Homo sapiens: one gene and its partner. The protein of the gene in region 2 purifies or fractionates together with the protein of the main gene of each other region. This does not show direct contact. Each region holds a gene or a part of one and is shown on either strand. Other genes may lie near its edges.

Region 1 (3,823 bases), on a different chromosome or scaffold from region 2:
CAATGATACTTCCTGCATCTACATTCTATGCCTCCTCTGGGGAGTTTCAACATAGCCTTGGTAGATACAAGTCTACTAAGAGTCTTGAGAAAGAGTATTCTTAACTTGATTTTGAGCAGCAGGTTTCTCATGCACTGCCATAACCCACTGTTCAAGCCATTCCCAACAGTCAGTTGTTCTAGGGCTGGATTACATTTTCTGTGTAACCAGGGAGAGTCATGAGGATAATTCTCTCTGGTTTCTGTTTTTCCTCTCACTTCAGCTGAAAGACTCACCCCAGGTTGGTGAGGACACATAGACAGGTGTGTTCTTGTTGTTTGTTCCATTGTACCAACGCGCTAAGAAATCAGCTCCAATTCGAAGTGCACCTGTTCCCCCCAAAGATTGCACACCTCCTACCTGAAAGAGAAGAAACAGGGTCACAGGCTGATAATGGTGAGGTCAGATAATATTTACAAAAATAAGGTAATAATGAGCACTTACTCTATGCCTGCTCTGTGCTAAGGCTTTTAATTGTATTATCTCATCAAAACCTTACAACTACTACATGAAAAAGGTACTATGATTTGCCCATGTTTACAACTGAGGAAACTGAGGCTGAGAGAGGTGAAGAACCTTGCTCAAAGTTACCAGCTACTGAGCAGGAGTGCCAGTCTTCAACCCAGGAGGTCTGACACTAGAAGAAGCTTCCCTTCTGAACACAGAGGTAGAGGACACACCGAGGCCACATTAGTGTGTGTGTGTGTGTGTGTGTGCATGCACGCACATGCCTTGGAAGGCAAACCCATCTCTTCAGCACCCATCCTAAGATCAAACTTACCCTCTAGCATAAGCCTCTAAAACAGTGTTCCTAACTTGTCATTGACATCAATCTGTGCTACTCCTCATCTCTAGAATTCAGGCTTATTAATCCTTAGAAGTATGTTCTAACAAAACAGAGGTGATGCATGAGTACTACTTTCTTCTCCTTGGCTTCCTCTCATTTTTTTTTTTTTTCTTTTTGAGACAGTCTCATTCTGTCACCTAGGTTGGAGTGCAGTGGCATGGTCTCAGCTAACTGCAACTTCCGCCTCCCAGGTTCAAGTGATTCTCCTGCCTCAGCCTCCCGAGTAGCTGGGACTACAGGCGCCTGCCACCATGCCCGGCTAATTTTTTGTATATTTAGTAGAGACGGGGTTTCACCATTTTGGCCAGGTTGGTCTCGAACTCCTGACCTTGTGATCTGCCTGCCTTGGCCTCTCAAACTGCTGGGATTACAGGTGTGAGCCACTGCGCCTGGCTGGCTTCCTCTCATCCTAAAGTGACCTAACATAGGCAATAATAAAAGCCATATTTTATTTATTTATTTATTTATTTATTTTACTTTAAGTTCTGGGATATGTGTGCAGAATGTGCAGGTTTGTTACATAGCTATACATGTGCCATGGTGGTTTGTGGCACCCATCAACCCGTCATCTAGGTTTTAAGCCCCGCATGCATTAGGTATTTGTCCTAATGCTCTCCCTCCCCTTGCCTCCCACCCACCGATAGGCCCCCGTGTGTGATGTTCCCCTCCCTGTGTCCACGTGTTCTCATTGTTCAGCTCCCACTTTTAAGTGAGAACATGAGGTGTTTGGTTTTCTATTCCTATATTTTATCATTTACAAAATGCTTTCATGTATACTCAATGCCCACATGCCCTCTAAAGTCAAGTCTATATCCCCTGAAACATGAGGAACTGATTCAGAGACATGTTTTTCCCAAAGGATACACAGTTGTGAGTGGCACAGCTCAGCACAAATCCAGGTTTTCCATTCTAGATGGAGTCACTACATTCTAATGATGTAGTTCTCTGCCTATAGATCTTTGATTTTGCCTCTTCAAAATTCTAATTAGGTTTCAGCATAAGTCTCTCAGCAGAAAAATGTCATAAACCCCATGTTGCCCAATTTGTCTAAAGGATTGAAGAGAAAGGAAGAAAAAGATCACATGAAAAAGTCTATCTAGCCGGGCGCAGTGGCTCACGCCTGTAATCCCAGCACTTTGGGAGGCCAAGGTGGGTGGATCACTTGAGCCCAGGAGTTTGAGACCAGCCTGGCCAACATGGTGAAACCCTGTCTCTCCTAAAAATACAAGAAAATTAGCTGGGCATGGTGGCACACACCTGTAATCTCAGCTACTCGGGAGGCTGAGACGTGAGAATCATTTGAACCTGGGAGGCAGAGGTTGCAGTGAGCCAAGATCGCACCACTGCCCTCCAGCCTGGGCAACACAGTGAGACTCTGTCTCAAATAAATAAATAAGTAAATACAAGGAGGGACACACGCCAATCTTCTAACAGTGGCAACCTCTGGGGAGGGGTCCAAGGATGTAGGAATAGTGGTTGAAAGGGACTTTGGCCTAATCTATAAGTCGTTTTTTTAAAAATAAGATGAATGTATTCATGTATTAGTCATAAAATTTTACAATTTCAAACACCTATTTAGATGTCTGGGATTTACTATTAAATAATAATCCAGCTTTCGTGGAGGGCAGGGAGGCAGGGAGGCAGGGAGTGGGTAGATGGAAATACACAGGATTGACCCTATACAGATAATTGTTGAAGCTAGGTGATGGATACACAGGGATTCATTCTTTATACTGTTTTCTCTACTTTCATATAGATTTGAAATGTTCCATAATAAAAAGGTTTTTTTTGTGTTTTTTTTTTGTTTGTTTTTTGAGACAGAGTCTCGCTCTGTTGCCCAGGCTGGAGTGCAGTGGCACGATCTTGGCTTACTGCAACCTCCGCCTCCTGGGTTCAAGTGATTCTCCTGCCTCAGACTCCTGAGGAGCTGGGACTACAGGCACGTACCACCACACCCAGCTAATTTTTGTGTTTTTAGTACAGATGGGGTTTCACCATGTTGGTCAGGCTGCTCTCCAACTCCTGACCTCGTGATCCGCCTGCCTCGGCTTCCCAAAGTACTGGGATTACAGGCATGAGCCACCACGCCTGGCCAATAAAAAAGTTTTAAAACTCTTCTTAGAGAAGAAAAGCTTCCTAAATCTTTTCAAGAACCTAACATAACATTGCTGCTAAAAGACAACAAAAGGGAAAAAAGTAGAATGAGAGACCTAGATCGTACCTTGATACTAACTTCCCAAGTAAACATTAATGAACAATATTAATCCAGCAGTACATTAAAATTACCCCCTTGATTGAGAGTCATCCCATGAATGGATTATAAGAGATATAAAACCAATCATGCTGCTAGATAGAGAAAACCCAAATGATCATCACAACAGGTAAGAAAAGCTTGGCTATTCCTGAGATAAATGCTTAGTAAAACAGGAAACAGTGGATACTTCCTGAAAATGACTGAAAAAAATTCATTTAACCCATAAGTCAGCTTAAAAACAGTGAATCGTTTAGTAGAAATCCCATTTAAGCCAACAACAAGGTAATGTTACCAATTATCGGCACTATTATGCACCAATGTTCTGTTTGTATTTATAGGTGTGAGCATCTGTGAAAGAATACTATCTGAAATGTGAAACATAAGCAAAGTTGACATTCAAGGGGATGCAGAACTAAACATAGCTGTACATTACAGAGAGGGGCAAAGGCAGTGCACTGGGGTGAAAATGCTCAGTGTGTGTCAGATTTGGTGTGCTAACTACTCTGTTATTTACAGTGATCCTTACTGAGCACTCATCCCTTGCTATTACTTTAAAAGTTTTGCCCCCACATTGTGGTTTACCTGAATTCTTTATGCAAATTGCTACCAAGATGATATAACACAAATGTGCATTTATTTTTTATGGATTTGTCATCCAGCTAAGTTGAATGTCAGTTTCATAC
Region 2 (3,823 bases):
GGCAAAGGAAAAGTGGGTAGAAGATGGCTTATGGGAATAATGAATTGCCTCTTGGTTTTACGTGTTGCTATTCTGTTAATTTGCATGAGAGCAGACTTACAGATATAAAATATTAATCCCCTCAAGCACTATCCACTTGGTCTTTTCTAAAGACCCTCTTGAGCAAAAGAGGAAGCAAAGGGCTCATTGAAGTCAAGCCCCACAGGGACCATAAACTCCTCACTGAAAAGTTCACATGCAATTCTATAGGGACTCAAAAGGTTCGGAATTAATTGTTATCACAGGTGCAGCAACAAGCTTCCCGATTAAAGATGCCAAATTATACTGCATGAGAAAGTTTATTGTTTTGAGAACGTTTACTTCTGAGCCAGAGTTGTTCACTAGTTTATTTTGCCAAAAGTTGTTAGCTGTGGGGAGAGAGGATTGGCTACTACTATATAGTCTTCAAAGACACCTAATTGACTTTTCTTGTGTTGGGAAGGTGCTAGAACAGACTTAAGAAACATTGAGAAGAAGCTGGCCTTCGACATGGCTACCAATGCTGCCTGTGCATCTCTCCTGAAAAAGAAACAGGGAACAGGTATTTGTTTTAAATTCTTCTTTCTCCTCTGGTGCCCCATAACTAAGATTTATTAACTTAGAATGGCGCAAAAGAGATAAACTCAGCTGAGTGCAGTGGCTTATACCTGTAATCCCAGCACTTTGGGAGGCCAAGGCAGGAGGTTCACTTGAGCCCAGGAGTTGGAGACCAGCCTGAGCAATAAAGTGAGACCTCTGTCTCTACAAAAAGTACCAAAAATTAGTCAGACATTGTGGTGTGGGCCTGTAGTCCCAGCTACTCAGGAGGCTGAGCTGGGGGATCACTTGAGCCCTGGGAGGTTGAGGCTGCAGTGAGCTGTGATCGCACCACTGCATTCCAGCCTGGGTGAGAGCAAGACCATATCTCAAAAAAAGAAAACCAAAAAAAAAAAAAAAAAAAAAAAAAAAGATAAACTCTTCAGATGATTCTGAAGTTTGTTTCAATATCCTTGATCTTAATGAGAACCCCCAAAATAGGACACCCTCAATTAAACAGAAATTAGACAAGAAACATAATCTTTTACCTTTATTGTGTGTTTCTTTTATTCCTTGCAATTAAGTTCTAATCACCCTGCTTTCCATTACAGTCCTTTTCAGAGAACGATCATCTTCATTCCCTCATTTAAATATGTATTTATGAGTGATTACCACTAAATATTTTTAAAAATAACATTTAATAGCTCCATGATTATATTTTATTTCTGTTTTAAATGAGGATATCAGTAAACTGTAATCAAATTTATTCTAGACTTTGCTAAATCTTCTGGACTTTATTCATAGTATTATGGGTGGTTTTTTAAAATAGAGTTTAAATGTACATTATTATTATTTTTTTAGATGGAGTCTTACTCTGTTGCTCAGCCTGGAGTGCAGGTGTGCAATCATAGCTCACTGCAGCCTCAAACTCCTAGGCTCACGTGATCCTCCCATCTCAGCTTCCTGAGAAAATGGGACTACAGGCATGTGTCATCATGCCCAGCTAATTTTTTTTTTAATGTAGAGATAGGGGTCTTGCCATGTTGTCCAGGTTGGTCTCGAACTCATGGACTCAAGCCATCCTCCTGCCTCAGCCTCCCAAAGCACTGGGATTACAGGCGAGAGCCGCTGTGCCCAGCCTCCTTTTGTTCTTTATTCTAGATATGTCTTTGTTCCAGATTTCTTTTCTTTTTTTAACTTCAGTTTGAATATAGTGTAACTGCTAATCAGTTGGTATTCCTTAATTAATCCATGAGAGCTCACTGGGAGTGCAAGCCTTTCTTTAAAGTAATTCCTCATGGATAGATGGAGATGGGTTCTACTAAGGGAATGGGAAAGTATCAGCTGAGCTGGTGCTCCCCAGCTACATTATGATTGAGAAGCCATATTTGCAATAGTGTGAGAGACATACTTCTGCTTGAGTTCGACCTCCTACTCCTTGCTGCCTTGATTGGGTCAGGAAGTAGGAGTCTGGCCTAACTTCCTTTCTCTGCCACTGACTTCCTGTTGTGTGGCTACCCTTAGCCTGTCCTGACCGAAGAGTAAGGCTTCTTATGACCTGAAGGTATCAGAGTCTAATGCATGCTATGAGCTCCATTTTGATAGACAAGGCATATACCAAACTTTCTTAGACCTCAGAGAGCTTACCCAGAAGCCTTACTCAGGAGTGGTTTGAGTTGAGGGAGGCAGGTAATGAGCCTTTCTGCAGCCTTCGTAGAACAGGGCTGGGAGGCAGGTACTCTTTTCTCTGTGCACCCCAAGTGTGTTTAGTCTACCTTCCTGAATTTGAACTGATTAGGTAATAGATTCATTAATGAGGTAATCTTAGGGCCTGGCAGACAGAGCCAAGAAATGAGTTTTTATATTTCAATTTTCATGTTACTTTTAAAATGTTTTTTCTTGCTTCATTTCCCCAATTATACAGTTAATTTGTATTGTGATCCTCATTGGAATAGGTTTGGACTATTTGGCCATAGAGTTAATTGTCAGCATGAACTCTAAGTTGGAAAAGGTATATTCTGATATTGTTGTCCACTTTTTTTTTTTTTTTGAGACAGAGTCTCACTCTGTTGCCCAGGCTGGAGTGAAGTGACACAATCTCAGTTCACTGCAACCTCCGCCTCCCGGGCTCAAGTGATTCTCCTGCCTCAGCCTCCTGAGTAGCTGGGATTACAGGCATGAGCCACGATGCCCGGCTAATTTTTGTATTTTTATCAGAGATGGGGTTTCACCTTTTTTGTCCAGGCTGGTCTCGAACTCCTGACCTCAAGCGATCTGCCTGCCTTGGCCTCCCAAGGTAGTTGTTGTCTACTTTTAGAAGCACAATGTGGATTTTTTAATAAGTACAAAAATTCACATTTTGCAGTTACTATGGAAGATAACTAGGATATAGGGCTGGGGGTTATACTCGAGTTGAGCCCTTTAACATTTTTTTCCAACTTTTAAAAATTTGTGTATAATTTACATTAAGTAAGTACATAAATCTTAAGCATACAGCTTGATTAATTTTTTTTACACCTGTTCACCACAACCCAGATGAAGCTAGAGAACAGTTCCCACACGCCACATGCCTCCCTCAGTGTCTTCTGCTTCTCTCACCATAGATTAGTTCTGCCCGTTCGTGAACTTTATGTAAATGGAATCAAACAGTATGTACTTTTTGTGACTGACCTCTTTCATTTACATTATGTCTGTGAGAGTCATCCATATGCCTGTGTTTATTTCTCCATCATTTATTTATTGTTTGTATGTTTGTTGGTTGGTTTTAAGTGCTGGTTCTTGATTTGAGATATGTAAAGCCAGGGTGATGGGACTGAGGTAAAATGAACGTGAGCTAGGGAAGGATGGCAGTGCTGCAGGAAGATACATTCCTATGCGTGCTATGCCCAGAGGTGGGCTGTGAAGAGATACAGGCTCATCACACAACACCTGACCATGTGGGAAAACTGCCTCAGAACAGTTCATGAAAGGAAAGAAGGAGAAGGAATTTATTTGCTGACTTGTGCCTGTCTTTTGATGACCACTCAGTCAGAGTCTGCACTGTGGCAAATCATCCTCTCTTTTTAATAGAAGTAAGAATAAAATAAAGAGCAGAAGTAACCATCCAAGGACACAGAATATGGGCAAAACTTAGGATAGTGGAGTAGAAGGGGACAGAGTTTTCCTATTTGTCTCTCAGGCTTTAGCTTAGAAAGCTACATTTTACCAAGTTGACATGAAGTCCTGAAGGTCCTGGGTGTGTGTTGGGGGAGAACAAAATATATTCCTC

What was found.
Region 1: the proteins of OSTF1 (region 2) and GOT1 purify together in Homo sapiens (affinity purification with mass spectrometry; one large-scale study listed by BioGRID and IntAct). This does not show direct contact.

The regions. Positions count from the first base shown.
Region 1 is NC_000010.11:99,406,451-99,410,273, forward strand, and holds part of GOT1 (aspartate aminotransferase, cytoplasmic), read right to left. Parts: intron 400-3,823; coding exon 276-399; intron 1-275. UniProt on the Homo sapiens protein: Biosynthesis of L-glutamate from L-aspartate or L-cysteine. Important regulator of levels of glutamate, the major excitatory neurotransmitter of the vertebrate central nervous system. Acts as a scavenger of glutamate in brain neuroprotection.
Region 2 is NC_000009.12:75,140,353-75,144,175, forward strand, and holds part of OSTF1 (osteoclast-stimulating factor 1), read left to right. Parts: intron 1-481; coding exon 482-580; intron 581-3,823.